Homo sapiens: one gene and its partners. The protein of the gene in region 4 interacts with the protein of the main gene of each other region in a pairwise test. Each region holds a gene or a part of one and is shown on either strand. Other genes may lie near its edges. The genes, in order: TM4SF18, ENTPD8, B3GALT5 and CLEC2D.

What was found.
Region 1: the proteins of CLEC2D (region 4) and TM4SF18 interact in binary tests that used the Homo sapiens proteins (3 or more experiments, as listed by UniProt).
Region 2: the proteins of CLEC2D (region 4) and ENTPD8 interact in binary tests that used the Homo sapiens proteins (3 or more experiments, as listed by UniProt).
Region 3: the proteins of CLEC2D (region 4) and B3GALT5 interact in binary tests that used the Homo sapiens proteins (3 or more experiments, as listed by UniProt).

The regions. Positions count from the first base shown.
Region 1 is NC_000003.12:149,330,254-149,338,386, forward strand, and holds the start of TM4SF18 (transmembrane 4 L6 family member 18), read right to left. Parts: upstream 3,384-8,133; 5' UTR 3,260-3,383; exon of another isoform or gene 3,251-3,259; intron 3,186-3,250; exon of another isoform or gene 3,147-3,185; 5' UTR 3,130-3,146; coding exon 2,953-3,129; intron 167-2,952; coding exon 77-166; intron 1-76.
Region 2 is NC_000009.12:137,438,063-137,446,606, forward strand, and holds the start of ENTPD8 (ectonucleoside triphosphate diphosphohydrolase 8), read right to left. Parts: upstream 3,296-8,544; 5' UTR 3,224-3,295; intron 244-3,223; 5' UTR 224-243; coding exon 98-223; intron 23-97; coding exon 1-22. UniProt on the Homo sapiens protein: Canalicular ectonucleoside NTPDase responsible for the main hepatic NTPDase activity. Ectonucleoside NTPDases catalyze the hydrolysis of gamma- and beta-phosphate residues of nucleotides, playing a central role in concentration of extracellular nucleotides.
Region 3 is NC_000021.9:39,615,269-39,623,080, reverse strand, and holds part of B3GALT5 (beta-1,3-galactosyltransferase 5), read right to left. Parts: intron 1-7,812. UniProt on the Homo sapiens protein: Catalyzes the transfer of Gal to GlcNAc-based acceptors with a preference for the core3 O-linked glycan GlcNAc(beta1,3)GalNAc structure. Can use glycolipid LC3Cer as an efficient acceptor.
Region 4 is NC_000012.12:9,679,156-9,686,967, reverse strand, and holds part of CLEC2D (C-type lectin domain family 2 member D), read right to left. Parts: intron 6,046-7,812; coding exon 5,935-6,045; intron 1-5,934. UniProt on the Homo sapiens protein: Receptor for KLRB1 that protects target cells against natural killer cell-mediated lysis. Inhibits osteoclast formation. Inhibits bone resorption. Modulates the release of interferon-gamma. Binds high molecular weight sulfated glycosaminoglycans.

The DNA of each region.
Region 1 (8,133 bases), on a different chromosome or scaffold from region 4:
TATTTTTGTGTTTCTGAGTGAGAGGAAAGAAAGCTGGAGCCCACTCAACCATCCTCAAAAAAACTGTTGCTCTTACCACATATTTTTTGCTGCAGTTTTCACTCTGGCAACATTTATAGTTGTTATTATTCTCCAGTACCAGAAGAACTGTTGTTACTATAAGCATCTATAGGAGGGAAGACATAAAATGTTAGCAATGAAATGCTAGTTTACATTTGTGCTTATAATCAGAGGACAGCGTCTTCAAGCATAGAGTCTGGGGTCAGGTAGATATGGATTTGAATCCAAGCTCTGTCACTTTCTAGCTGTGTGAATTTGAGACACCTTCTGTATAAAATGGTATCAAGAGATCGTCACGAGGTAATATATGTGACATTTTGAGTATAGTGGTTGATTCATAGTGACTGATAAATGTTAGCTATTATTATCATGGTTAGCAACCATCAAAAGCTAATGATTAAGGAGAAGTAAATGGATGGACAGGAGAATACCACCCTGGGCAGCAAAACCTGCCTTTCTCAATGACTCAGTTGTGGAGAACCAAGGAAAATCATTCAGCAGGCTTGGTAGTTTGCCAGCCTCTCTTCATTTACTGTCCTCTGGGAATGGAGGTGAGAGGCTCAGTTAATCTGAAACCATATCTCTTTAAAGTGACTTCAATTTCCCCATGCATTCAAACCATCTCAGGTTTAAATTGTTTCAATGTGTTTTGTCTGTATCAAGCCAACAAAGTGGGAGAATCAATGCATCTTATTTCCTTTTTTTAAATTTTATTTTAGGCAAAAGGCCAGAGCTCTGGAAAGAACATGTATTTCTTTACCATTATAATTTCATTATAATTTCTGGTTAGACTAGATACAGATCATGAATTGCTTATGGGAAATTCTCCACCCATTTTTTTACTCTCACTATTTAGGACTGAATCCCACAGCTGAGTTCACTGTTATTTTACTCTTCGTAGCCAATGTTTCTAGTTTCCAAATTTCTTCAGCTTTCATTAATTTTTTTGTTCATTTAATTATTTACCTATATTCTTCTCCTTTCTCCTAAAAGGATTTGATGCAGTTATAGTAATATATTTTAATAATTCCTGGAAGATGAAAAAAATAGAGAACAGGTTTCTTTTCCTAGTTTTAATTTTTACATGGAATATAAGCAAAAGAGTCCTATATTCCCCTCCTTTCCACATCGTTAGTTATGACAGATTGAAAGAAATTCTGGTCTAATCTTAGTTATGTCTTGCAACTCTTCCATCTATTGCAATTGCATATTGAGGGAAACAATGATGAGACAAGGCCAAAGCATAGTAACCAGCTTCATTACAATATTGATAGAGATAATTTGACCTAGAGCCTGTAGTCTTATTGCTCAGGCATCAACTGTTGAAAGAGACACTGCCTTCTTTTTTTGTTTTAAAATATAACTGCAATACAGAGGAGTCAAGAATAATGGAGGTAAAGTACACATAATTCCACCACCCTCGTGAGTCTTCATGCATTTATTTCTGGTGTTTTCCCACATATGTCTATTTGACACAGCTGCAATAGTAATTTACCCACAATGTTATTGTGTCTCTTTTCACTTAACATGAAATAATGTGCATTTTCCACGTTGTTACATCTTCATAATTATAATTTTCACCACTGTATGAAGTGAATGTACCATAATTTATTTTGCTACTTCTCTGTAAGATGCTTCTTCTAGTTATTTACTATTATACCAATGCAGCCACAAACATCTGCACACATAGCTCTTCCCTTATTTTGGATGATTTCCTCAGAAAAAATGATGAGATGTAGGATTACTGAGTCAAACGACATAAGCATTTTCATGGATCTTGATATATTATACCAAACTCTTCCCGAAAAGACTGACATTTATTTGTAGTGCAGCCAATATTAGTTATGTACTTATTTCATAGCAACATCAATAGCATTGGATATTAATATTTTAAAGTTTATTAATTTAATGTGCAAAATGAATAACTAAATGAAAATTGCTTTACAACACAGCTATTCAAATATAATAATTAAAAACCCCTAAAAGATGTAGAAATAGATTATAATGAATTTTCTTCTACATTATTGGTGGTCTGATTAGCTTACAGTCCATAATGCACTATTTTTAGAAATGACTTGACCAGGAAATTGTCTTTTCCTCTGAGTTGCCAACATGATTTACTCTCAGTTTGTTTATTTTTAAAGAACACAAAGTCATCAGGAAAACGTTCATGGATTCTTGCCATTGATAATTCAATTTACTTTTCAAAAACTCCCTCCATTATTAGGGTCTAATGTAGGACTATTTTAATGATGACACAGCTCATTCTTTAATAATCATAATTACAACAGTCACTGGCTATCTACTACATGTCAGTCTCTCTCCTGGGCACTTTATATATATTTTATCTTTAAAAGTAAATGCCATTATTCACATTTTTCACATTAGAACACTGAGGCTCAAAGATACTGAGTAACTTGCTGAAGGTCTCATGGAACAAATGACAGAGCTTAGATTTACATGCAGGTTTGTCTGAATAGCCAAGTCTCTGCTTTTTTTTCATGCTGTCCTAATGCCCCTTCAAGCTAGAAAAACATGAGTGCAGACAGAAAATCTGTTCTAGAAAACAGTAATGCCACTGAAGATCAAATAGCTTAAATTGATATGCAGGGTTCATGAGAACATACTGTTTTTACAGGCCAGTGTCCCACAGACTTTCATTAGGACTAATTTCCTGCATTACTGAGGCTGCATTGCTGAGCAGCTTATTGAAAACAGAGCTATGTCCCAAATGCCAGCAGATTACCTGCCCCTTCACCCCCATCCCTCTTTCAAATCCTACACCCAAGATTAGCAGAATGATTTTTCCATTATTCATTACTTCTACTAGTTACAAGGTAAGTCTCAATTACAACTCCCCCTTCTCTCCCAAGTCTCCAAATTCATACTTACCATGATGCCTGAGAAACAGATTCCTTCAAAATACCACACGTAGTTGGTGAGTTTATTGCTGGATGCATAGGAAGTTTGCCCATTCGGGAAATACAATAATATGTTCACGATTATACTCCAAAGTGCAAGCGGAATCAGCAAACAACTTAGGCAGCCTCCACACTTCCGAGACCCCATTTTGCCCTGCTTAGAACCTGCGGGAGATTTCAAGAGTATACAGTCACAGAAAGTCTATTTTTCTTCTTCCTACCTGACCTTTTTTTTCTCTCTCTCTCTCTTTTTTTTTTTTTTTTTTGAGATTACCTACCACTTCCAGGGTCAGAGCCCTTCACTTCATATTCATGAGGAGACGGGGAATTGGAATATACCCGCAGCCGACAATCTCAGTGTGAAATACTGGTTTACTGTTTGGAGAACAATAGACAATGATCAACAACTGAAGAGCTGAGCTGGTCTTCATCCTGTGCCAAAGGAATGCGGTGTTTTTCACTGCTTTTTAAAATAAGTAATTTTCCTCTGGATTAAAGCACCGAAGGCTTAACCCTGACCTTGTGTTAAGAAGGAAGTTGGGGTGGGAACTGGAATTGAATGCAGCAAATTTCATCCAACAGTGGAGAGAGGGTTAAAGAGAAAACTACCAAGGAGGCTTATATTTAGAGCTTGATAGGTTTGTTAAAATATCCTGACTTTACCCTTTTTATGTATCTGTCTTTCACCTAGTGTGCTTTTTGTGTGCACACTATTCACCAAGCTTTGTTCAAATTGCAAGGGATAAGAAAGGACTGAGAAAGTGACTGGTGGATGAGAAAAACAAAATATCTTGGTTAGATCAGTACAGCTTTCCTTCCAAGAGTTTGCATCTATTATCTCTACCTCTCTGAAAAATCATAACAGAAATAAAGGCATATTTTTCCTACTATTAAGAAAACAAAGGTAGGGCTGGCGCAATGGCTCAAGCCTGTAATCTCAACACTTTGAGAGGCTGAGGCGGGTGGATCATCTGAGGTCAGGAGTTCAAGACCAGCCTGGCCAACATGGTGAAACCCCATCTGTACTAAAAATACAAAAATTAGCTGGCATAGTGCTGGGCACCTGTAATCCCAGCTACTCTGGAGGCTGAGGAAGGAAAATCACTTGAACCTGGGAGACGGAGGTTGCAGTGAGCCGAGATCGTTCCACTGCACTCCAGCCTGGGTGACAAAGTAAGACTCTGTTTCAAAAAAAAAAAGAAAGAAAGAAAGAAAGAAAGAAAGAAAGAAAGAAACTAGCAGTCCAGGTTCCAAAGAGGTTTCTTGGCACCCCCTTGTGGATATGGTTTTTTTTCCCTCTAGTGCTTTTGATCTAAGTGCATCAAAAAATCTGGGCATTAGACGTTTTTTCCAGTCACATAGAAGCAGCATAAAATCATATTTACTAGAGTTCCTGGGATGATTGGGAAGAGAATAACATTGTTGGTTGAGCATTCATTGAGCATCTCTTATGTGGCAGGCACTGTGCTTGATGTTTTAAAAGGTTCACTCTGGCTGCTGTGTTGTAAATAGGTGGTAAAGGGTGTGGAGGAGATAGAGATGAGTTCTGAAGCCATTTCCACCATCCAGGTAAGAGATAATGATGACTCGGATCATGATGGTAGTAGCAGCAGAGGTGGTAAAAGGAAGCTGGATACCAAACACCGCATATTCTCACTCATAGGTGGGAATTGAACAATGAGATCACATGGACACAGGAAGGGGAACATCACACTCTGGGGACTGTTGTGGGGTGGGGGGAGCGGGGAGGGATAGCATTGGGAGATACACCTAATGCTAGATGACGAGTTAGTGGGTGCAGAGCACCAGCGTGGCGCATGTATACATATGTAACTAACCTGCACAATGTGCACATGTACCCTAAAACTTAAAGTATAATAATAAAAGAAAAAAAAAAGGAAGCTGGATTTGGGATATATTTTGAAGCTTGTGCCAACAGGATTGGTGGCAGATTGGATGTGGGTATAAGAGAAAGAGAGAAGTCAAAGACGACATCATTTGGGCCCGAGAAACTGGGAGAATAAAATTGTCATTAACAGAAATGAGCAAGTCAGCTGAATGAGCAGGGTTGGGAGAAGAGGAATGATATGGTCAGTTTCGAATGTGCTAAGTTTTGAAATACCTTTTAGAAATCCAAGTGGAGATGTCAACTAGGCAGCTGGATATACAAATATGAAGTTCAAGGAAGAGGTCTGGGTGACATATAAATGTGACAGTTGTCAGCATATAAATGGTATTTAAACCCATGAGACACTAAGGAAATGCATGTTGATAGAAAAGAGACCCAAGGACTAAATCCTGGGCAGCCCAGGACTGAGTTTAGGGACATGAGAGGAAGGCAGAAAGGATACTGAGAAATGGCCAGTGAGCCAGAAATGAAGATCAGGAGCTTATTCTCAAAGGTGACTTTCTAAGAAGAAGAAGGCGTGATCAACAAAGTTAAATGCTGCCAAAGGGCACATCATACGAAAGAACTGAGAATCGGCTATTGGGTTGAGCAACGTGGAGGTCACTGGTGGCCTTCATAAGAGGAGCTTTCTTGGTGAGTTAGAGATGAGATGAGAGTCCATCTGCAGTGGATTCATGAGAGAATGGGAGGAGAGAAATTGGAAATAGATGAGGTAACTCTTTTGGAGAGTTTTGCTGTAAAGGAGGGCAGAGAAATGGGGCAGCAGCTAGAGGAAAAGTAGAAGTCAAGGGACAAAAATTAATGGAAAAAATGGTAGCATATTTGTATACTGTTGTGGGAAGGGGTATGAGGGAGGGTAGGTAGGTATTTACCATAAAGGAGATAAAGGAGAGGATTGCTGGCACAGGCTCCTTGAGTAGGTGAGAAAGGGTGGGAGTGTGTGAACAGATGGAGGAGCTTACCTTAGATAGCAGCAGGGCAGGTCAGTGTCAGCAACAGAACAGAAGGAGAACATAGCAATGGGCTTGGAGGTGGTTAGCGGGAACTTCTGATTATTATACTTCTGTTTTCTCAGGGAAACAGGAGGCAATTTTATCAGCTGAGAATGAGGATGGGGAGAGGGTGTTAAAGGTTTAAAGGAAGAGAGGAGAAGTTCAAACAGTTGGCTTGGAAAGTGGGAGAATGAACAGACTAGAGAAATGTGGCAGGTGCTGAGGGACCACTTGAGTCTGTGACCGTGAATGGATAGTGAGACTGGACAGGAGACTTGGGTATTTTTCCTAGTAAGGTTCAGTGGCAGAGGTGTAGCCAGCAAGTAGGAAGAAAGCTGGAGTCAACCAGGATTGGGACTTTGCCAGGCAGATACCATGAAGAGAGGGATGGGCAAAGGATTCAAGAATGTATGCAAGTGAATGGTTATAATGATGGACTGTGGAACTTAAGCTGAGTAAGGAGGGAAGTAAGGACGTGAGGGAGTGTGAGAAATAGTAAAAGAGGCACTGGATTTGTAAATTGTGTGTCCCAGTGTGGCTGAAAAATTACTGGTTTTAGGTAACACACAGAGTGAGCTAGAAAGAGAGGAAGTAGTGATTGAGAAGTGTGATGCTGGAATTTGAGATTTTAGAGATGTTTCAGGAATAGGCGAAGAAAAAGTCTGGAGGTGTGTTATGGGCTGATCATGTCTCTCCTAAATGCACATGTTGAAGTTCTAACCCCCCATAATCTCAAACGTGACTGTATTTGGATAGGGCCTTTAAAGTGATGATGAAGTTAAAATGAGGACAGCATGGTGGGGATAATCCAATCAGATTATAAAAAGAGGGAATTTGGACACACAAAGAGATTCCAGGGGTGCAAAGAGAAAAGACTGTGTGAGGACACAGTGAGAAGTGGCTATCTGCTAGCCAAAGAGAGAAAGGCCCCAGGAGAAACCAATCTGCCAACACAGATTTGGCACATAATTTACAAATCTGCTTTGAGATTTGGCACATAACTTACAAATCTGCTTTGACCTTGGAATTCTGGCCTCCAGAACTGTGAGAAAATAAATGTCTTTTGTTCAAGTCACCCAGTCTGTGGTGTTTTGTTATGTCAGTCCTAGCAGACTGACACAAGTTGTGATCCTAGGAGTGAGTAGTGTAGGGAGGTGGAGGACAAGATGACTGGTGAAAAGGAATGGAAAGGGAAGTGTATTGGAATTATCATTTATAATGAATACTAAAATAAAAAATTAGACAATGTCAGTTTGGGAGAGAATGACTACATTTAGAAAGCCAGGTGCTAGACTCTTCAAGGAATGAAAGAAAATAAGCTTGAGGGAGGATTTAGAACTAGAAATACCATTTGACCCATCCATCCCATTACTGAGTATATGCCCAAAGGATTATAAATCATGCTGCTATAAAGACACATGCACATGTATGTTTATTGTGGCACTATTCACAATAGCAGACTTGGAACCAACCCAAATGCCCATCAATGGTAGACTGGATTAAGAAAATGTGGCACATATACACCATGGAATACTATGCAGCCATAAAAAAGGATGAGTTCATGTCCTTTGTGAGGACATGGATGAAGCTGGAAACCATAATTCTCAGCAAACTATAGCAAGGACAGAAAACCAAACACTGCATGTTCTCACTCATAGGTGGGAACTGAACAATGAGAACACTTGGACACAGGAAGGGGAACATCACACACCAGGGCCTGTCGTGGGGTGGGGGACAGGGGGAGGGATAGCATTAGGAGATATACCTAATGTAAATGACGAGTTAATGGGTGCGGCACACCAACATGGCACATGTATACATATGTAACAAACCTGCACGTTGTGCACATGTACCCTAGAACTGAAAGTATAATAATAAAAAATAAACTAATTACTTAATAAATTTTTAAAAAAAGAAAGTAACCTTGAGGGGGACTGAACTGCAGGTGGGAGATGGAAATATCATCTAGCATTGAAATTTACAGTTTCTTAATCCAATAGTCACCACTCCCCTTCCCAGTGATTTTTAAGCAGAATTTAAAAAAAAATGAAAATGTTTGATTTGGCTCTTCGTTTTCCTCGATGTGAAACCTTCTCTCATAGAGGTTCTAACAGGCACTGAAACGAGAATTAAGAAAGGGTGGGAGCAGAATAATCGCTGAAGGGGGTCATTGGCTACCAGGAAACCCAGAAGTAGCTGTGTTCTACTAGACATACTTGCAAGGTTCTAAGGAGGTTTAACTTAATTGAGA
Region 2 (8,544 bases), on a different chromosome or scaffold from region 4:
CCGCATCAAACACGATCCCAAACTGGGGAGACAGTGGGATGAGTGGGAGGCAACACCTGTGGACCCGGCCCGGCCTCCCCTGCCGGCGGGGACGCACCTTGATGTCTGTGGGCAGGAGCACGCTGGTGGCCTCCACCAGGAGGAGAATGAGTGCCGTGAGGCCTGAGACCCCCGAGGCCCCCAGCAGGGCCAAGAAGACCTGCTCCTTCCGGGACAGCCCCATGGTGCAGGTGGTACTGGTTCCTGTGGGGGGACGGCCGTGGGCACCCAGGCTGCACTTGGTGTCCCCATCCCGCCCTCCAGAGGCAGAGGCTTCGCTCCCCGTCTCCCTGGAGACGCACCCCTGGACAGCCACTTGCCTTAGAGGCATCTCCGGGGCTCAGACGCCTCCCGTGGCCATAGAGGCATCCCCGGGGCTCAGACGGTCTCCCGTGGCCTTAGAGGCATCTCCGGGGCTCAGGCGGCCTCCCGTGGCCATAGAGGCATCTCCGGGGCTCAGACGGCCTCCCGTGGCCATAGAGGCATCCCCGGGGCTCAGACGGCCTCCCGTGGCCATAGAGGCATCCCCGGGGCTCAGACGGTCTCCCGTGGCCATAGAGGCATCCCCGGGGCTCAGACGCCTCCCGTGGCCAAGGACCACTCCCCAGGAGCCACGCCTGCCAGGGGTGCCATGGGCATCAGAGGGCCCTGTGGGAGGGGGGCGGGGGGCAGCAGAGGCCTCGTCTGGGGACACAGCCCCAGCAGGATCCAAGTAGCCCCCTCGGACCCCCTCGGATGGGACTCGCGGAGCTGCCCCCACCATGTGATGGGGCCACCCTGTGTCCCCACCCCTCGGTCCTGCCTCTCCCGTGCCACCCTCCCCAGGAGCAGCCACAGCTCCAGCCTGCACTGGGGGCCCAGGGCTCTGCCTCCTCTCTGCGGCCCCCACCCCAGGCACTCCTAGGGTGGGGGTTTCTCTCTGGAGCCCTGAGGGGACTGTTGCCGAGGGGCTGTGGGTGAACCCAGGGTGAGGCCAGCCATCCTAGGAAGCCGAGTGTGAGGCTTCTTAACAACATCGGTTTCTCTGGAAATCCAGCCCAAGGCTTCCCTAATCTGACTCTGCACCTTCTTAGCTGGTGCCAGATGGCGCCTGGTCGGGAGGTGGACCCAGGGATGCCATCTGAGGGGCCTGGGCTTCTCTAGCCCTGTGGCCGAGGTGTCCACCTCCTCCTCTGCCCAAACGCCCAGCAAGGGTCTCAGCTCTCAAACTACCCCAGGCCGACCCTGTGCCCCATACAGCCCCACTTCACACGGGTACCACTGCCAAAGGAGTGGTCAAAGCCAGAGGCTGCCTGCCAAGGTCCCGGCACCTGAACCCCATGTGACCGTGTCCTATCGTGTTCCCCCGGGAAACGTTGCACCCACACTGAGTGGCAGGCGCGGGTGCTGCCCTGGTCCTGACCTGGGGCTCCTGGGCACGTGGAAAGTGGGACACGCTGTGGGGTCCTCACGCAATTCTGTATGTCCGGGGGATATAAGCCCATTTTAAGGAGGGTAGATGACAGAGGCTCAGAGAGGACAGGAGGCCGGTCCAGCCCAGACAGGGCCCAGCCTGTGTCCCCAACCAGCACCCAGGCCATAGGCCACCTCATAGGGACAAACAGGTGACAGGGGCCAGGAACACAGGGACTCCACACCCAGAAGATGTAGCCACCTGAGACCCCCAGGCCTGAGCCTCCAGGTAGGCAAAGAGGTTGGGGCAACCTCTCCCACACTCAAAAGACCCCCAAGACCAGAACAGCCTCCCAGATCAGAACAGCTCCTCAGACCAGGAAAGCGCCCCCCAGACCAGAACAGCCCCCCCGAGACCAGGACAGTGCCCCCAGACCAGGAGAGCCCCCCAGACCAGGACACCCCCTCAGACAGAACAGTCCCCCAGACCAGGACAGCCCCCCAGACCAGGACAGCCCCCCCCAGACCAGGAGAGCCCCCCAGACCAGGACACCCCCTCAGACAGAACAGTCCCCCAGACCAGGACAGCCCCCCCAGACCAGGACAGCCCCCCAGACCAGGACAGCCCCCCCAGACCAGGACAGCCCCCCCAGACCAGGAGAGTCCCCCAGGCCAGGACATCCCCTCACACAGAACAGTCCCTGAGACCAGGACAGCCCCCCCAGACCAGGACACCCCCTCACACAGAACAGACTCCCAGATCAGGACAGCCCCCCAGACCAGGACAGCCCCCCAGACCAGGACAGCCCCCGCCAGACCAGGACAGCCCCCCCCAGACCAGGAGAGCCCCCCAGACCAGGACACCCCCTCACACAGAACAGATTCCCAGACCAGGACAGCCCCCAGACCAGGACAGCCCCCCCCAGACCAGGACAGCCCCCCAGACCAGGACAGCCCCCCCCCAGACCAGGAGAGCCCCCCAGGCCAGGACACCCCCTCAGACAGAACAGTCCCCCAGACCAGGACAGCCCCCCAGACCAGGACAGCCCCCCCCAGACCAGGAGAGCCCCCCAGACCAGGACACCCCCTCAGACAGAACAGTCCCCCAGACCAGGACAGCCCCCCCAGACCAGGACAGCCCCCCAGACCAGGACAGCCCCCCCAGACCAGGACAGCCCCCCAGACCAGGACAGCCCCCCCCAGACCAGGACAGCCCCCCCAGACCAGGACAGCCCCCCAGACCAGGACAGCCCCCCCAGACCAGGACACCCCCTCAGACAGAACAGTCCCCCAGACCAGGACAGCCCCCCCAGACCAGGACAGCCCCCCAGACCAGGACAGCCCCCCCAGACCAGGACAGCCCCCCAGACCAGGACAGCCCCCCCCAGACCAGGACAGCCCCCCAGACCAGGACAGCCCCCCAGACCAGGACAGCCCCCCCAGACCAGGACACCCCCTCAGACAGAACAGTCCCCCAGACCAGGACAGCCCCCCCAGACCAGGACAGCCCCCCAGACCAGGACAGCCCCCCCAGACCAGGACAGCCCCCCAGACCAGGACAGCCCCCCAGACCAGGACAGCCCCCCAGACCAGGACAGCCCCCCCAGACCAGGACACCCCCTCAGACAGAACAGTCCCCCAGACCAGGACAGCCCCCCCAGACCAGGACAGCCCCCCAGACCAGGACAGCCCCCCCAGACCAGGACAGCCCCCCAGACCAGGACAGCCCCCCAGACCAGGACAGCCCCCCAGACCAGGACAGCCCCCCCAGGACATCCCTTTGGACCCTCACCTGGGCTGGCTGCCCACTTCCCGGAGCGGCAAGGAGGAAGCTGTGCTTAGACGCTTCTGTGTCCGCGCACCTGGCGTCCAGCCTCTCCCTGCCCCTGGGTCCAGGACAGCTGGGGTGGGCGGGGCAGGGCGGTGACAGCCTCGGGCGATGCGCTGTGCACCTGGCTCCAGGGCCCGCAGGCTGAGGCCAGCGCCCAAGGTCGCCCCGCCCACTCCACCCTCGGGTCCCCCGCCCAGGGTCTCCCCGCATCTCCCACCCGCGGGTCTGTCTCGGTGCCCAGGGTCGCCCCGCCCCCGGGGGGGTGGGAGGCAGGAGAGGGAAGCTGAGGAGGAGCCTGGAGCTGCGAGGGGCAGAACTCCGGGACCCCGCCCCCCACGGCCCGCAGCCGCGCTCCTGACCCCGGCCCGGACTTTACCCCCCGTGCCGCCCGGCCCGGGCAGGTCGGAGTCAGGTGACCCCGAAGGTCCAGGCCCGGGGCGGGGGCGGAAGCGCCTGCAGCCCCGCGGCGCCCGTCGTTTTCCATTTGCAGCCACTCTGCCTTTCCCGCTCGCCGTGGGTCCCGGGGCCGCCGCCGTCGGGGTCCGGGCCTCTGAAGCGGGGCGGGGCTGGGGGAGGCGCGGAGCCAGGGCCGGGCTGGGTGGGGCTGGGGGTGTTGGGGGGCGGGGAATAGGGTGGGGGAATGCGGGGGGGCGGTGAATTCCTTTCTGTGTGAGATCCAAGAACCCTCTTGGGGTCTCAATCGGGACTCTCTTTACTGGTAGCATATTTGGTGTCATGTGTGTGCATTTTTGTGCTTTTTCTTGGTGATTTCACTGTTTATAATGGCGTCTCAGCATAGTGCAGAAATGCAAGAAGGCTGAGATGCACTTTACAGAGAAAACACACATTGGATAAGCTTCATTCGTGCAAGAGTTAGCGCTGTTGGCCATGAGTTCAATGTTAGTGATACAATACATATTAAGTAAGGTGCCCTTAAACAAAAATACACATAAAAGAAGGTTTTATTAATATATTGATCATTTAACAAAAATGTGACCAGAAGCTTGCAGGAACAGAACTTTGCATTTCCCTTAGGAGCAATAGTTTAGCATATTCTTTAATTCAGTGTTTGCAGCAACTTTATACACTAGCTGCCATGGGTCATAAGAGTCAAATGTGTTTGTTGAGGATTTTTGCAGTTGTGTTCAACAAAGTTGCATAGTTTTCTTTTTTAGTCCTGGTTTCTGTATGGGGATAATGCTGGGCTTATAAAATGAGTCTGGGAAGTTGTCCTTTTTTTTTTTTTTTTTTGAGATGGAGTCTCGCTCTGTCACCCAGGCTAGAATGCAATGGTGCAGACTTGGCTCACTGCAACCTCCACCTCCCAGGTTCAAGCGATTCTCCTGCCTCAGTCTCCGGAGTAGCTGGGATTACAGGTGCCTGCCACCATGCCTGGCTAATTTTTTGTATTTTCAGTAGAGATGGGGTTTCACCATGTTGGCCAGGATGGTCTCAAACTCCTGACCTTGTGATCCGCCCACCTCGGCCTCCCAAAGTGCTGGAATTACAGGCGTGAGCCACCGCGCCCAGCCAGCTGTCCTTGTTTTATTTTGTGGAAGGGATTTGAAGAATTTGTATTAAATTTCTTCTTTAAATATTTTGTATAATTTGGTGGTAAAACCATCTGAGCCAGTACTTTCCTTTTTAGAAAAGTTTTAAAGTACAAATTCAGTTTCTTTAATACTTAATAGGATTGTTCAAGTTGTCTATTTAATGAGTTTTGGTAGTTTGTGGCTTTCAAGGAATTGGTCCATTTCACCTAAGTTGCTAAATTTATGTGACTACAATTATTCATAGTACTTCCTGGTTATCCTTTTAATGTCTGTAGGGTCTGCAGTGCTAACCCTCCCATTCCTCATATTGGTAATTTTGTCCTCTGTGTCTCTCATCAGTGTTGCTAGCTAGAGGTTTATCCATTTTATTCATCATTTCAAAGAACCTGCTTTTTGTTTCATAATTTTTTCTTTTTGGTTTTTGAATTTTTAAATTTAATTTAATTTAATTTAATTTTTTTGAGACGGAGTCTCTCTCTGTTGCCCAGGCTGGAGTGCAGTGGCCGGATCTCAGCTCACTGCAAGCTCTGCCTCCCAGGTTCACGCCATTCTCCTGCCTCAGCCTCCTGAGTAGCTGGGACTACAGGCATGTGCCACCACGCCCAGCTAATTTTTTGTATTTTTAGTAGAGACAGGGTTTCACCGTGTTAGCCAGGATGGTCTCGATCTCCTGACCTCATGATCCGCCCACCTCGGCCTCCCAAAGTGCTGGGATTACAGGCGTGAGCCACCACGCCCGGCCGGTTTTTGAATTATTTTAATTCTGCTCTTACTTGTATTTCCTTTCTTCTGCTTGATTTGAGCTTATATTGCTCCTCCTTTTCTGGTTTCTTAATGCAGAAGGTTAGATTATTGACTTGAACCTTTCTTTTTTTCTAATGTAAGCATTTGTGCTATGAATTTCCCTCTTAAGCACTGTTTAGCTATCTCTCTCAATTTTTGATATGTTGTATTTTCATTTTATTCAGTTAAAACATATACATATATATAAATTTTTTTTTTTTGAGACGAAGTCTCACTCTGTTGCCCAGGCTGAAGTACAGTGGCACAACGTAGGCTCACGGCAACCTCTGCCTCCCAGGTTCAGGTGATTCTCCTGCCTCAGCCTCCCCAGTAGCTGGGATTACAGGCATGCGCCACCACACCCGGCTAATTTTTTTGTATTTTTAATAGAGACAGGGTTTCACCAGGTTGGCCAGGCTGGTCTCGAACTCCTGAACGCAGGTGATCCGCCCACCTCGGCCTCCCAAAATGCTGGGATTACAGGCGTGAGCCACCGGGCCCAGTGGCAGGATCATAGCTCACTGCAGCTGTGAACTCCCTGGCTCAAGCAATCCTCCCTCCTTAGCCTCCCAAGTAGCTGGGACCACAGGCATGCACCACTGTGCCCGGCTGATTTTTGTTTTTGTTTTTGTTTTTAGTAGAAACAGGGTTTCACCATGTTGCCCAAGCTTCTCTCAAACTTCTGTGCTCAAGTGATCCATCCGCCTCGGCCTCCCAATGTGCTAGGATGACAGGCGTGAGCCACTGGGCCCAGCCTTTGCTGAGACTTTCTCTTCTGACATTTTAAGTGCTCACGATGGCTCAGTTAGGCACCGCTATAATAGCTACTTTAAAGTCTTCAGGCCGGGCATGGTGGCTCACACCTGTCATCCCAGCACTTTGGGAGGCCAAGGCAGGAGGATCACTTGAGGCCAGGAGTTCAGGACCAGCCTGGTCATTCCAGAACCACCACTGGGGGGCATACGTGTGACTAGACCAGAGGGTGCCCCAAAATCTTGGAGAAAAACTGACCTTGGACCAATAGCCACTGAGGCTGAAACTAAAACAGCAATGTTCACCATAGGATAAAAGGAAGACTCCGAGTCTCATATTAAGTAAGATTCAAAACATTACAAACCAGGCCAGGCGTGGTGGCTCATGCCTGTCATCCCAGCACTTTGGGAGGCCAAGGCACGTGGATCACCTGAAGTCAGGAGTTCGAGACCAGCCTGGTCAACATGGTGAAACCCCTGTCTCTACTAAAAATACGAAAAATTAGCCAAGCGTGGTGGTGGGTGCCTGTAATCCCAGCTACTTGGGAGTCTGAAGCAGGAGAATTACTTGAACCCGGAAGGTGGAGGTTGCAGTCAGACGAGATTGTGCCACTGCACTCCAGCCTGGGCAACAGAAAGAGACTCTAAGAAAAAAAAAAAAATTACAAACCAGAATTCCTCCACACCCAAAGAACTGTGAGAATCCTGACCAGCAGGGAAGAGGCCATCAGCAGACACCAAGGTTGAGAAGGCGTTGAAATGACAGAAAGACTGACAAAATCTGTTTTTTAAAATTTTACTCATTTAAAAATTTTTTCTTGAGACAAGGTCTTGCTCTGTCACCCAGGATGGAGTGCAGTGGCGTAATCTTAACTCACTGTAGCCTTGAATTCTCGGGCTCAAGTGATCCTCCTGCCCCAGCGTCCCAAGCAGCTGACACCACAGGCACGCACCACCACCACACCCCATTAATTTTTTTTTTACTTTTTGTAGAGACAGATATTCGGGCGCCCCCAGTCTAGCCACACGTATGCCCCCCAGTGGTGGTTCTGGGAATGACCAAGGTTGGCTGCTGAAGTCAGTTGTCTGGGTGAGTCAGAGTGAGACACACAGACACACTCACAGGCACGCCTGAGGGTTGGGGGGCGTTGGGGGTGGTTTTTGGGTACTTCTCAGCTCCTGGGCTCCCCAGACCTCCCTTCCCAGCCCTCAGGCCAGAAAGCAGGGGTGACAGAGCGCACAGAGACGTGGGAGATTTGGCAGCGGGAGGGGAGCTGACCCGCCTGCCTGCAGGCACCAGGACAGGTGCAGGGAGCCATCGGGGCCATCTTGCCCCTTTCAGGGACAGGTTTTATGTTTGCTGTCTCCTGCCCCCACAGAGGCAATGCTAACAGCAAGGGTGTGACCGCCACAGCTCCCTCCACCATTCCGATCATGTCTACATTATTGATTCCTGCTCACGGGGGTTTTACCTTACAGACAGGAATCACACCTCTGCTTGCCCTTAGACACTCCTGCACCCTGGCGGGAGGTCTCCACACAGCCCCCAGACCACACCCCAGGTCTCAAGGGTGGCTGCTCTGCTGGGTGCACATCCGGCCACGGGGCCACCCGGGGGGCCACTTGGGGTTGTGTAGTGAGCGTGGAAGTGCAGACCTGGGGGTCTGCACTTGAGAGCAGGGCAGGCAGGTCGCTGGGGCAGGCGGGGGCCTCCCCCGTGCTGTTCCCAGCCTGCCAGGTAGTCACGAGAGTGCATCCAGGCAGGTGGCAGGAGACATTGCACATCGATGTGAAGCGTGACCCAGTCACTTGGAACAGCTGGACCTGTTGCATCTTCCTCCTTAGCAATAAGCCTCGTGAGCATCGGATCCTTCCAGAAAAGCCATTGTGCGATCGGGCCACACCCAGATTAGCGGGCACAGCACAGCGGGGCAGTAGACACCCTCAGAAAAGGTGCCAGGGGGCGGCTGGGGCTGGACGGGCTTGTGCACTCATCAGTCACACTACTTTTAAGAGCTGTTACCAGATTACCTTAAAAAAAAAAGCTGTAACAGGCTGAGGAGGCAGGAGGATTGCTCGAGGCCAGGAGTTTGAGACTAGCCTGGGCAACAGAGTGAGACCCTGTCTCTACAAAACATAAAAGAATTAGCCAGGCGTGGTGATGCCTGTAGTCCCAGCTACTCCGGAGGCTGAG
Region 3 (7,812 bases), on a different chromosome or scaffold from region 4:
GGGAGGGAGGAAAAGAAAAGAAAAGAAAAGAAAATTTACAAGTTCAAACTAAGGAATAGTTACAAAATAAGGGAACAAGGTTGTTAGTTAAATTGTGCTGAGGTCCTTGTCATGATAGAGAAAATACCAGGAATACCAAAAATGTTTATATATCGTTAAAATACATGATTCAAGATTAAATATAATCATTAAAAATATATATACAGTCTACAGTCTGAAAACCAGCAAAAGAAGTAAAATGGGAATGTAGAAAACTGTATCAATCCAACAGGAGACGAAAAAATGAAGAAAAGAGAACTAAAGAAAAAAGGTATGAAAAAGAAAACACATAATGAGATAAAAGAATTAAATCCAAAGGCCTCAGAAATTATGTATATTATAAATGGATTAAGTTCACTTGCTTAGAAACACAATAAGCAGGTTGGAAAAAATCTACCTATATGCGAGTTCAAATGACACACCCAAAGTAAAGCTACAACGATAGGCAGGAAAGATACTTGCTATTAGTTAGGGGGAGAAAAGAAAAAGAAACCAACCCCTAATGCAGCTATGTAAGGCAAAAAGAATTCAAGCCAAAAGTATCAACACTACATAGCAATTCACCATAAATTATTATAATATAGATAGTATAATATAGATCTTTAGAACTTGTAAGCTTCAACAACACAGCATCAAAACATATAACAAAAAATTGATAGCATTCTAAGAATAAATTTTATTTTTACACATTTCTTTTAGAAACGTGTAACCAAATAGAACAAAAATTAGTAATAATGATTTGACAATGAAAATTAATAAACTTCATTTATTAAACCATACAGAAACAGAAAGTAAACATTCTTTTCAATTGCACACATACCACTTATGGGGATTAAAAATCAACAATAAAAACATACTGGAGAAAAATGTGTGTTTTGAAACTTTCAAAAGTAGGCCTCAAAAAAACTTATGGCTTAAAGAGGAAATCATAATAGATATTTTAAACCAAATAAAAATGAAAGACCAACATATCAAAACCTGTGGACAGCAATTAAAAATTATTTAGAAATAAAGTTATAGGTCAAAAGAATAAATATGTAGAATACATTAAGCATATACTTCAAGAAGCTACGAAAAAAGAGCAATAAACATTTGAAAGGTGAGAAAAAGAAAAAGACGAGGATATAACTATCAAGTCATTGATACACAGAATAAAACAACCAAAGAAATTATCTACATACTCAAAAACTGTTTCTTTCAGAAAAACTAATAAAGCAAATAAAACTTTACCAAGATTTAACAAGAAAAAAAGAGACAGAAATAAATCATATTTAAAGTCAAAAAGGTCTGCAACAGAGAAATTTTTAAAATGTTAAATCATAAGAAAATACTATGAACAATTTTATGCCAATAAATTTCAAAACTTTGAAATAATTTTCCAGCAAATCATGAATTAATGTAGTTCATTGAAAAGGAATAGAACCTGAATAAACAAAAGGAAATAGAACCTAAATAAACAATGAATCTGTCATCAGAAGTCCACTGCCTCCACTCTACGATGCAACAACCCAGAAAGATTTAGAGGTGAGCTTTACCAAATTTTAAAGGAACAACAAAAAAAAAAAACCTTTTTGTGCAAGCCATTTCCAAGAGACAGAGAAAAAATACACAACTTCAGACAAGGATAGTAAAAGAAAAGAAAATTATGAACAATATCTCTTTTGAATACAAATGGAAAGGTCCTAAATAAAACACAAGAAATGCACTAATAAATTATACCAGTAAATTAAAGGAAGAAAAAGTCTATGATTATTTCAAAAGCTACATCAAAAAAGAATCAATAAAATTCAGCACCAATTCATAATAAAAAAGAGATCTTTCTTAATTTGACAAAGGGTGTCCATCAAATATCTAAAATAGACATATTTGATAGTGAAACTTAAAAGCATTCCCATTAAGGTGAAGGTGAAGACAAGGATGTCCATTATCACTTTTTTTTCTCAGAGAAAGGGTCTCACTATGTTGCCCAGGCTAGTCTTGAACTTCTGGCCTCAAGCAATCCTCCTGCTTTGGTCTCCCAAAATGTTGGGACTACAGGCATGAGCCATTGTACCTAACCTGTCACTGCTTTTATTAAACATTGCCCTTGAGGTCCCAGCCAATGGAATAAGACCAGAAAAGATGTATATAAGAAATAAAAGAGAAGAAACTAAGCTATTCTTGTTTATAGACAATATGATTATTATGTCAGACCACATAGGCTAGGTTATGCCACAAACAACCCCAAAATCTCGGGGTCTTAACACTGCAAGTTTATCTTCTCATAAGCAAAATCAATTGCTAATTCAGGCTACTCTTGAAGGCAAGCATACAAAGGTCGGTTTATTATCATATGCTATTTTGATCTAATGGTATGCTCATATCAACATTTGCTTTAAACAAGCAGAGCAAAGACAGCTGGGAAATCATGCACCTGCAATTCAATGTCTCAGCACACATCCCTTTAGCTCCCTTTTCATTGGCCAGGGAAAGCCACATGCTTTGCGTAACTTCAAGAGGTGGGAGAAGCAAAATCCTCCCATGTGCTAGAAAGACACAAATAACCAAAATATCTAATACAATTATCTACATAAAACATCCAAGAGACTCTACATGTAAACTATCAGAACCAATAGAAAATGCATCACATTTATCAAATTTCCGTGGTATTATTACCAAAAATGCATAACTTCAGTCTGCATATAAGAAAATATCAGGCAACTCCAAATTGAGGAATACTCTACAAATAACTACCCTGAACTCTTCTGAGATGTCAAGTTTACAAAAGAGAAGACTGAGGAACTATTACAGATTGAACATGAATAAAGCAACATGAAAACCCAATGCAATATGGGATTCTGGCTGGGATCCTGGACCAGAAAAAGGACATTACAGGAAAATTGGAAAAATTCAAACAAGGTCTGAAGATTAGGAATATTATGGCCGGGCAGGCTCACGCCTGTAATCCCAGCACTCTGGGAGGCTGAAGCAGGAGGATCACTTGAGGCCAGGGGTTCGAGACCAGCCTGGCCAACATAGTGAATACTGTCTCTACCAAAAATACCGTCTCTACCAAAAAATATAAAAATTGGCCACACATGGTGGCACACGCCTGTAATCCCAGCTACTTGGGAGGCTGAGGCACGAGAATTGCTTGAACCCGGGAGGCAGAGGTTGCAGTGAGACGAAATCACACCACTGCACTCCAGCCTGGGTGACAGAGCAAGACTCTGCCTAAAAAAAATAAAAGAAAGAAAGAAAAGAAAAAGAATGGCTGAAAAGAACAAAGTGGTAACTTACCTTCCCAGACCAAGACATATTATAAAGTCACAGCAATTAAAACTTGTGGTGTTTGGGCAGAAACAAACAAAATACATCATGACAAAACAGAACAGAGATCTCAAAAATAAACCTACAAATTTTGGAAATGAACTTGACAACTGAACCTCAGATTCGTACATAGACTAAAAGGCAAAAAATAGCTAAATACATTATAAAGCAAAACAAGATGGGAAAACTTGACCTAACTTGATCTAGTATATATAAAAACTTATTACATCAATAAGATACTTGTGATTTATAAACCAATGCTATGGACGGAATTGTGTCCACCCAAAGTTCATGTGTTAAAGCTCTAACCCCAATGTGACTGTATTTGGAGACAAAGCTTTGAGGAAGTAATTAAGGTTAAATGAGGTCATAGGGTGGGATCCTAATTCAATAGGGTTGGTGGCCTCATAAGAAGAAAGGAATCTCTTTCTGCATGTAAGGACACAGACAGAATCTTTAGGATGTATCTGCATCCCTGAAGAGGGTCCTCACCAGAACCTGATCAGGCTGGCACCTTTGATCTCAGACTTCCAGCCTCCAGAACCGTGAGAAAATAATTTTATGTTGTTTAGCCATCCAGTCTATGGTATCTCATTATGGCAGCCCAAGCAGACCATAAAATAGAATAAATAGCCTCAAAACAGATCTACACAAGTATGGTATTACAAATGGTATTACAAATCACCAGAAAAAGGAGTACTGAATTAACAACCTAGGACTGACTATTCATTTGAAAAAATTGAATTTGAATCCCTAACTCACAACATATCAAAAATAAATCCAAGGAGGATTAAAAACCTAAATGTGAAAAGCAAAACTTGAAGGCTTTTAGCAAGAAATACAGTATATGAGACAATCTTTATAGCCTTAGAGTGGGGAAGAATTTCATAAGATGAAAAGCTTCTTCTTAAGAGAAAGCACAAACCATTAAAAAAAAGTGGTAAATTTCACCAAATTAAAAATGAAAACCTATTGTTCAATAAAATGTAAAAATACAAGACACAGACGGAGTAGATATTTGCAATGTATATTACTAAAATTAAGGATCTAGAATTTCTAAATGAGCTTCTATAGATCTATAAGAAAAAGACATTCCAAATGAAAAATGATCAAAATACATGAACAGGCCATTCACAGAAGAGGAAATCCAAATGGCTGAGATACATAATATACAAACAGATGATTAGTTTTACTAGAATCAGGAAAATGCATCTTAAAACACTGAGATTCTACTTCATACTCATGACAATAACAAAAATTTAAAAATCCAATAATTCTAAGGGTTGGGGAAGCTGTGGAAAAACAGGAACTGAGTTAGAGGTATAGTATGTAGGAGCATAAATTGGTACAAATCCCTTGGAAAACATTCTTCAGTATCTAGGAAAGATGCTTTTTCACCCAATGCATCTTTTCTAGGTATGTACTCTAAAGTACACTCTAACATGTATGCAAAGGAGATATGTATAAGAATGTTTATTATAGCATTTTTATATGAAAAATGAAAATCATCTAAACGTCCATTAACAAAACAATAGCTGAGCCAATTGTAGTACAATCCTACAATATAATTTTTTTTAAGAGACAAGGTCTTGCTCTGTTGCCCATGCTAGAGTGCATTGGATTGATCATGGCTCACTGCATCCCCAAACTCCTGGACCCAAGCAATCCTCCCATCTCAGCCTCCCAAGTATCTAGGACTACAGGTGCATGCCACCACGCTTGGGGTAATTTTTTATTTTTTATTTATTTATTTTTTTCATAGAGATGAGGATTCGCTATGTTGCCCAGGCTGGTATCAAACTCTTGGGCTCAAGAGATCCTCCCACCTCAGCCTACCATTTTACATAGCAATGAAAATGAATGAACTACACCCACAGAGGTATCCGATCTTCTGGCTTCCCTGGGCCACATTAGAAGAAGAATTGTCTTGGGCCACACATAAACTACGCTAACACTAACGATAGCTGATGAGCTTTTAAAAAAATCTCAAAGTTTTTAAAAAGTTTATGAATTTGTTTGGGGCCACATTCAAAGCCGTCCTGGGCTGCAGGTTGGACAAGCTTGAACTACAGCTGTGATATGGTTTAGCTCTGTGTCCCCACCCAAATCTCATCTCCGGCTGTAATCCTCAAGTGTCGAGGGAGGGAAGTGATTGGATTAAAAGGCAGTTCCCCCATGTTGTTCTCCTGATAGTGAGAGAATTCTCATGAGATCTGATGGTTTTATAAATGGTAGTTTTTCCCACACGCTCACATGTTCTCTCACTTGCTCTCTCAGGCCATGTAAGACATGCCTGCCTCCCCTTCCGCCATGATTGTAAGTTTCCTGAGGCCTCCCCAGCCATGCAGAACTGTGAATCAATTAAACCTCTTTCCTTTATAAATTACCCAGTCTCTGGAAGTTCTTTATAGCAGTGTGAAAATGGAGTAATACAAGCTATGTCTCAACATGGATAAATATTGAAAACAATGAATCAAAAAGAGCTTCAGTAGGACCATACGAAACCATTTTAGAGAGCTTGAAATATTGAAGTCAATACCATAATTAATCACAGATTTATACATAGAAGTGATGTGGAAACACACATGGAAAAGACAGTAATAATTCAGGATAGTGAGAAGGGATGAAAGGAGATGGGGAGAACTAGGGAGGGGACAGAGGGAGCTTCAACAATGCTTTCCTATTGTCTTCTACATCTAAGCAAGTATGGCCAAGTGTTAGGACACAATAGAGCTGGGATGTGGACTCACACATGCTTTTTCTATTATTATTTCACTTCTGCATGTTTGAAATACTTCAAAATTTGAAAAATAAAAAATGTAATGCCTCCAAGTTACATCCTGAATTTGGGGGCAATCCAAAACCTGAGTGTATCCTGAGAGCAACTTTTAATAAAACTATAAATTTTAATAAATTTAATCAAAATGAATAGAGACTAAATCCACCAATCATGATTATCCATCATTCCCACTGCTTCTGCTCCTTCATATCCTCAGGCCACAGAAAAGCTGATAAACTGTATCTCCAGGACACCAAAGGAAGCTCTGGGAAGGAAACGATGTTCACATAGGAGAGAAGCAATCGAGGACAATTCAAAAAATTGTTATCTAAAGGTTCAGCTGAACCTGCCCTTGTTAAATATGCTTGACAAATAAAGAAATGGCAGAGCAAATATGCATAAATACCACAGAAAGGAAGGAGGAAATGAAACAAAAGGAAATGTGCAAAAGACAAGTGAAGAAGCCACAGTCTGGAAGAAAATATACTCCCAGCAGTGGATTAAAAGTTTTCACAGTAAATGATTTATTGCTACAAGAAACTAAGAACAGGAAATCAACAAAACAGAGCCACAAGCAATGACAAGGAGACGGAACGAGATTAAAAAGGGAACTTGCAGAGTTTAGGAAGCACAGTGATCACCAAAACACCTCTATGGAAAAATGAATAAATTAGAAACAGTAAGAAAAAGAGAGAGAGCATTGCAAACGTGAATAGGAACACTGAGGAATGGTTTCCAATAATTATAAAAAATCAGAGCTCTTTCATTTTCAGAGACGGGGTCTTGCTATGTTGTCCAGGCTGGTCTCAAACTTCTGGACTCAAGCAATGCTCCTGCCTGTGTCTACAGCTTAAACAAAAAAAAAGACAGGGACCAAAATTTAAATAACAAACTAAATATTGTTCCCCTGATGTTAGTCATCTTATAAAAATAATTCTGCCCTTGCTCACAATATTCTTCTCACAACTTTTTGGGAATTACTTTTCAAATCATGTTATTTTTTAAAATTCAATAAGAAACAACTAGTTTTGTTTCCTTCTTTCCATACCTCATTCTTGATCCAAAACAATTATTACTCAGCATGGTAAAGTGCTTGGCACACAACAAGAAGTCATAATAACAACAATAGCTATAACTTAAGTAGCATGTATATACCTGGCACTGTTCTATTGTTCTTTATTATATACAGAACCACGTAATCCTCACAACCACCCCTATGAAATAAGTACTATTATTCTCTTCAATTTCAATTAACGAAACTGAGGCATAGGGAAATTAAGTAACTTGCCGAAGGTCATATAACAAGTACCTGTCAAAGCTGGGATTTGCAACCAGTCATCTGGCTGCAGAGCCTGAGCTATTTATCTCTGCAAGAATATTTATTCAATGCGTGAATGAATGATCAGCCACTCTGTTTACCCAACTTGGTCCCAAACGACTTCTGGCTCCGATGTCTTCTATTAAGGATGTGGGGATGATGTTCAAAATTAGATATAAAAATTCCGGTTGTTTTGTTTTTCAAATGAATCTCACTGCACCTGCACGATACTCAGAGCTCCTAATTCTGGTTTTCAACTGAAGGCCATGTTAGTTCTCAAAATCTCTATAAATCATCTTACCCACCCCTTCACCTTTCATCTTCAGACACAGGGTCAGTTAACTCCCTCCTTCCACGGGCAAAGAAG
Region 4 (7,812 bases):
ATAGAGATGCCTTATGTGAATAAGGTTTCTTGATGTGAAAAAGCCTTGTATATGTCTAAATACTATCATAAATATGAAATAAGTTGTTGTACAGTGAACTTCCTTCCACTAAGGAGATTTAGTGAGGTTTTCTACACTTTGAAGGCAGCAATACTTCACTGGACAGGCTTTTCTGACCCACTTCTTATATAATCAGGAGAAATGCTCTCTTCATGTGGGATCGAGATGAATGAATGTCTCTCCAGATAGTTGTCACTGAGCCCCTAGTAGCTACCAGTTCATCTTCTATTATATAACCACCTTCTACCTTCAACTCAATGGTTCTGAAAGTGTCTATGATAGACCAGAATGCTGGGTATTCATAGAATCATTACTATCAATTGGCACCATTATCCTTGGATTTGGCTCTTGTGAGATGAGAAATCACTCTTAGTTATGAATAATAACTGGTGTAATCTGAATAACAAATCATAACATGAGGCAAACGTGTATTGTATCTGGTTTGGTATCACAAACAAGGTGATACCAAATTATAACTATTAAAATGTAATTTCTTGAACCAGACCATAATGCAGGATGACTTTCCCCAAATCTGTGCATATTTGTTGTGCTATCACTGCTCCTGTATCAACCAATTTAAAGAAAACGACCAGACCAGAGAGGGCAAGATGGCTGATTAGAAACAGCTCTGGTCTGCAGTTCCCAGTGAGACCAATGCAGAAGGCAGGTGATTTCTGCATTTCCAACTGAGGTACCAGGATCATCTCACTGGGACTGGTTACACAAGTGGGTGCAGCCCACAGAGGGCAAGCAGAAGCAGGGTGGGGCGCTGCTTCACCCAGGAAGCACAAGGGGTGGGAGAACTCCCTCCCCTAGCCAAGGGAAGTTGTGAGGGACTGTGCTGTGAGGTGCTATCTGGCCCAGATACTACGCTTTTCCCACGGTTTTTGCAACCCACAGACCAGGAGATTCTCTGGAGTGCCAACACTACCAGAACCCTGGGTTTCAAGCACAAAACTGGGTGGCGATTTGGGCAGTCACCAAGATAACTGCAGGAGTTTTTTTCATACCCCAGTGGAGCCTGGAACCCACTGAGACAGAATCATTCACTCTGCTGGAAAGGGGGCTGAAGCCAGGGAGCCAAGTGGTCTTGCTCAGTGGGTCCAATCCCCACAGAGCCCAGCAAGCTAAGACCCACTGGCTGGAAATTCTTGCTGCCAGCACAGCAGTCTGAAGTGGACCCCAGATGCTCAAGCTTGGTGAGGGGAGGTGCATCCGCCATTACTGAGGCTTGAGTAGGTGATTTTCCCCTCACAGTGTAAACAAAGCCCTGGGGGAAGTTCGGACTGGGCGGAGCCCACCACAGTGCAGCAAAGCCAGTGCAGCAAAGCCACTGCAGCCGGACTGCCTCTCTAGATTCCTCCTCTCTGGGCAGGGCATCTCTGAAAGAAAGGCAGCAGCCCCAGTCAGGGGCTTATAGATAAAACTCTTATCTCCCTGGGACAGAGCACCTGGGGGAAAGGGTGGCTGTGGTCACGGCTTCAGGAGACTTAAACATTCCTGCCAGCCAGCTCTGAAAAGAGCAGTGGATCTCCCAGCACAGTGCTCGAGCTCTTCTGAGGGAAAGACTGCCTTTTCAAGTGGGTCCCTGACCCCCATGCCTCCTGACTGGGAGACAACTCCTAGCAGGGGTTGATAGGCACCTCATACAGGACAGCTCAGCTGGCATCTGGTGCGTGCCCCTCTGGGATGAAGCTTCCAGAGGAAGGAGCAGGCAGCAATCTTTGCTTTTCTTCAGCCTTTGCTGGTGATACCCAGGCAAGGAAGAAATGGATAAATTCCTGGACACATACACCCTCCCAAGACTAAACCAGGAAGAAATCAGATTCCTGAATAGACCAATAACAGGTTCTGAAACTGAGGCAGTAATTAATAGCCTACCCAACCAAAACAAGCCCATGTCCAGACAAATGCACTGCCGAATTCTACCAGAGGTACGAAGAGGAGCTGGTACCATTCCTTCTGAAATTATTCCAAACAATAGAAAAAGAAGGAATTCTCCCTAACTCATTATATGAGACCAGCATCATCCTGATACCAAAACCTAGCAGAGATACAACAAAAAAGAAAATTTCAGGCCAATATTCCTGATGAACATCAATGCAAAAATCCTCAATAAAATACTGGCCAGCCGAATCCAGCAGCACATCAAAAGCTTATCCACCACGATCAAGTCAGTTTCATCCCTGGGATGAAAGTCTGGTTCAATATATGTAAATTAATAAATGTAATCCATTACATAAGCAGAACCAATGACAAAAACCACATGATGATCTCAACAGATGCAGAAAAGGCCTTTGATAAAATTGAACACCCCTTCATGATAAAAACACACAATAGACTAGGTATTGATGGAACATACATTAAAATAATAAAAGCTATTTATGACAAACTCATAGCGAATATCATACTGAGTGGCCAAAAGCTGGAAGCATTCCCTTTGTAAACTGGCACAAGGCAAGGATGCCCTCTCTCACCACTCCTATTCAATATAGTATTGGAAGTTCTAGTCAGGGCAATCAGGTAAAAGAAAGAAAGAAAGAAAGTGTATTCAACAGGAAGAGAGGAAGTCAAATTATCTCTGTTTGCAGATGACAGAATTGTATATTTAGAAAACCCCATTGTCTCATCCCCTTAAAACTTATTAAGCTGATAAGCAACTTCAGCAAATTCTCAGGATACGAAATCAATGTGCAAAAATCACAAGCATTCCTATACACCAATAACAGACAAACAGAGAGCCAAATCATGAGTGAACTCCCATTCACAATTGCTACTAAGAGAATAAAATACCTAAGAATACAACTTACAAGAGATGTGAAGGACCTCTTCAAGGAGAACTACAAATCACTGCTCAAGGAAATAAGAGATGACACAAACAAATGGAAAATCATTCCATGCTCATAGATAGGAAGAATCAATATTATGAAAATAGTCATATAGCTCAAAGTAATTTATAGATTGAATGCTATTCCCATCAAGCTACCATTGACTTTCTTCACAGAATTAAAAAAAAAAAAACTTTAAATTTCATATGGAACCAAAAAAGAGCCTGTATAGCCAAGACAATCCTAAGCAAAAAGAACTAAGCTGGAGGCATCATGCTACCTGACTTCAAATTAAACTATAAGGCTACAGTAACCAAAACAGCATGGTGTTGGTACCAAAACAGATATATTGACCAATGGACAGAACAGAGGCCTCAGAAATAACACCCAACATCTACAACCATCTGATCTTTGACAAACCTGACAAAAACAAGCAATGGGGGAAAGGATTCCCTATTTAATAAATGGTGTTGAGAAAACTGGCTAGCCATATGCAGAAAACTGAAGCTGGACCCCTTCCTTACACCTTACACAAAAATTAGCTCAAGATGGATTAAAGACTTAAACATAAGACCTAAAACCATAAAAACCTGAGAACAAAACCTAGGCAATACCATTCAGGACACAGGCATGGGCAAAGGTTTTATGATTAAAACACCAAAAGCAATTGCAACAAAAGCAAAAATTGACAAGCGGGATCTAATTTAACTAAAGAGCTTCTGCACAAAAAAAAAAAAAAAAAAACAAACACAAAAAACAAACTATCATCAGAGTGAACAGGCAACCTACAGAATGGGAGACAAATTTTGCAATCTATCCGTTTGACAAACAGCTAATATCTAGAATCTACAAGGAACTTAAAAAAATTTACAAGAATAAAACAAAAAACCCTATCAAAAAATGGGCAAAAGATATGAACAGACACTTCACAAAAGAAGACATTTATGTGGCCAACAAATATATGATAAAAAGCTCATCATAACTGATCATTAGAGAAATTCAAATCAAAACAACAATGAGATACCATCTCATGCCAGTTACAATGACAATCATTAAAAAGTCAGGAAACAACAGACGCTGAAGAGGATGTAGAGAAATAGGAACACTTTTACACTGTTGGTGGGAGTGTAAATTAGTTCAACCATTTTGGAAAATACAGTGTGGCAATTCCTCAAGGATCTATAACCAGAAATACTGGGTCTATACCCAAAGGATTATAAATCATTCTACTATAAAGACACATGCACTCGTATGTTTATTGTGGCACTATTCACAATAGCAAAGACTTGGAACCAACCCAAATGCTCATCAATGATAGACTGGATAAAGAAAATGTGGCACATATACACCATGGAATACTATACAGCCATAAAGAAGAATGAGTTCATATTCTTTGCAGGGAGACAAATGAAACTGGAAACCATCATTCTCATCAAACTAACACAGGAACAGAAAACCAAATACTGCAGGTTCTCACTCATATGTGGGAGCTGAACAATGAGAACACATGGATGCAGGGAGCGGAACATCACACACTGAGGCGTGTTGAGGGTTGGGGGGCAACGGGAGGGATAGCATTAGGAGAAATACCTAATATAGATGATGGGTTGATAGGTGCATCAAACCACCATGGCACGTGTATACCTATGTAACGAACCTGCGGGTTCTGCACATTTATCCCAGAACTTAAAGTATAATTTAAAAAAAAAGTTAGGGACCAGAGCTATAACTACAAAGCTCTATTAGGAATTTTTATAACTAAAGCCAATCTAAATAACTCGATTTAAATGGGGAAATACCACACTTGAATAGTTAACTAACAATCTAAATGTTAAATAAAACATAAAAATGATATAAAGTAATACATAATAACACATTTAAAAAAAGAAAGAAAGAAAATGACCAGATTAGAAGATGGCTCCAGCTATTGGCTCCACACAAGAAATCATTTCCAAAGTGCTAGCTGAAAGGAAGAGAAACACATAATGGATAATAAAGGAAAACAGTCATAAGTGTCAATTTCATATGCTTACTGTAAAAAAAAGAGCTATAAATTTAAATTATATTTCAGAATACATTCCCTTGATTAATACTGAGGTACTTACAGAGTACAGAAATTGTCTCTTTCCAATTTTTTCTTTCTTAAATAGTTACAATTAGTTGACTTAAATCTCTGAAATAAAAAAATTATTTTTGCTTCATAAATGTATAAAGTATATTATCTGTGGTTTCAAAATGCCAAAAGATAATAAGCAAAAGATTTGCAAATGAATAGAAATTATTTAGAGTGTTATATGGAGTGCTCCAAGTATTGCTGACTCTTAAGTTACGTAAGCAGTATTTGAAGGGTCTCTCTGAAATTACTTCAGAATGTAGTAACAGGGGGTAGATTTTAGGTTGATATCCAGATTGGCATGAGGTTTGGGGGAAGTGCTTTTGTAGTTTTCTATGTCTTCGCTTGGTCTATATTAGATGCACTGCAAGCATGTTTTGAAGTACAAGATAATTTTTATAGCTAATTGCTTTTAGGGTACAATCACTAAACGGAGTTTGTTTTCTAGGAAGATGGGCTACATATGCTAAAAAAAACAAGGGCCAGAACATGCTCAAATAGCTAGGAAGAAAGAACAGGCTGCCTGTGATGTTATACAGCCACTTAGTAGTTTTGTGTACTTTAAACCATCTGTTTTGCTATTTTTCATGAAACAAGGTTGTTGTGGAGGTAAAATTAACCATGTTCCTAGATCGGACAAGAGACTATTTTTCAGTTTACTATTTTTTTTAATTTTTGCATCAATATTCTTAAGGAATAGTGGTCTGTCTTCTACCTTCTGAAGACTCTGATCATCTCACTAAACTTGGAATAATGTGAACCCTATTTACATAATTAAAATTTTTGGTGCCACTTAAAAAGTTATTGGAGTGTAACTCAGTTAGTGAGACAATATATTAAAAGCTGTAAAGAATAACAAAATTATTCAGATTCTTCCTCTTCTTTTTACAAGTATAATTCTCTCTAGATGAATAAAGATTACAGTTCACTTACCGCTTAAAGCAGCAACCATTCCACACACTATGATTGTCAGAAACATGATTAAGAAAAATAAGCGCCAAATTAAGGTAGCTTTAATAGAATGCTCTTTTGAATGCAGACAACCTGGAAAAAATTATTGAAAAACATTTTAACAATTAAATACAGACATAATACTGCCAGAAACATTAAGCATCAAAATGTTATTTTTATTTAATTCCTTCGCTTTTCACTAGAGGATGCAAATGACCTGTCATCTTATGAACTTACTATTCTATCTCCAGAATTTAATCATTTTCCAAAGTTAAAAGAATTGATTTTAACTTTCCAGCTACCATATTCAAGTTACCCTTTCAATTGGAGAGATTCATGTCAACTAAACCACAGGAATGAAATCAACAAAATCCAAGTAACTGGAAATTCAACATAGCAAATTATTCTGATTCCTGTCTAAAAATGTAAAGAAATATTTTTAAATGATATTAAGAGGAAATCTATCGATTAAAATAGACTTAAAAGGCATTGTTTTGGAGGAAAAAAGGCAAAACTGGAGTGATAAAGTGATTATTGTAGAGGTCAAATTAGTGTTATTCTTGGAAGGATAGGAGAGTGAATAGTTAAGAATACATGGAGGGCCTCTGAGCCACATAACAAGGATCTTTCTTAGACAATGTTAGCAGTTGTATTAGTCCATCCTCACTGCTATGAAGAACTGCCCAAGACTGGATAATTTAAAAAGGAAAGAAGTTTAACTGACTCACAATTCTACATGGCTGGGGAGGCCTCAGGAAACTTACAATAATGGTGGAAGAGGAAGCAAACGTGTTCTTCTTCACATGGCAGCAGGAGACAGAAGTGCCTAACAAAGGGGTAAAAGCCCCTTATAAAACCATCAGATATCATGAAAACTCACTCGCTATCACAAGAACAGCACGAGGGTAACCAACTCCATGATTCAGTTATCTCCCACTGGGTCCCTCCCATGACAAGTGGGGATTATGAGAACTACAATTCAAGATGAGATTTGGGTAAAGACACAGCTAGGCCATATCAGGAGTCAACAAAGGTGTTTATCTTATAATAATTAATCAAGCTACATATTTGTATTGTATAATTTCCTGTAGTTGTGTTATATTTCAAAATGTCTTAGGTTATCTAAAACCTCTTATGAAGTTCATTATTGGAACCCTGTTCTGACACAATCTCTTGCATACAATTCACACCTCTAGTTAATTTATCTAGGTTTGTCCTTAGCTAAATAGGCATATTTTTCTCCAACATTCCCCCCAACACTAGAGAGATCAGCAAGCTTTACATTGATGTTTCCCAAGATATTTGTCTTAATCAATAGATTTTAGTTTTTATCAGTTTAAGTTGACAGAAATACTGAATTAAAAATATAGAGTTCACATATGCCCCTGTACCCCCTTTATCAAAGATTTAAGAAATCATAAGAGAATCCAGAGGAAAATAAATTCTACATGTAGAGAAACAAAGATAAAAATGACATTTACATTCTTCTCAAAAACCATGCAAGCAAGAAGACAGTGGAAACAAATATTTAAAGTATTAAGAGAAAAAACCTTATCAACTTAGAATTCTTTAGCCAAAAAAATTCTTCAAAGTGAATGAGAAACAACCACTATTTTGGAGAAACATTGAGATAACTTGTTGCCAGTAGACTTGTCTTATATCAAAAAACAAAAAAGTTAAATGCAATTATTTTAAAAGGAAAGAGAATTATACAGGTTAGAAACCTAAATTATATGAAAAAGGAACAATATAAAAAATAAGTGAAGGTAAAATAAAACTATTTTTCTTATTCTTAATTGATCTAACAAATGGCAGTTTGTTCAAAATAACAATAGTAGCAATATATTTAATTATGTGTGC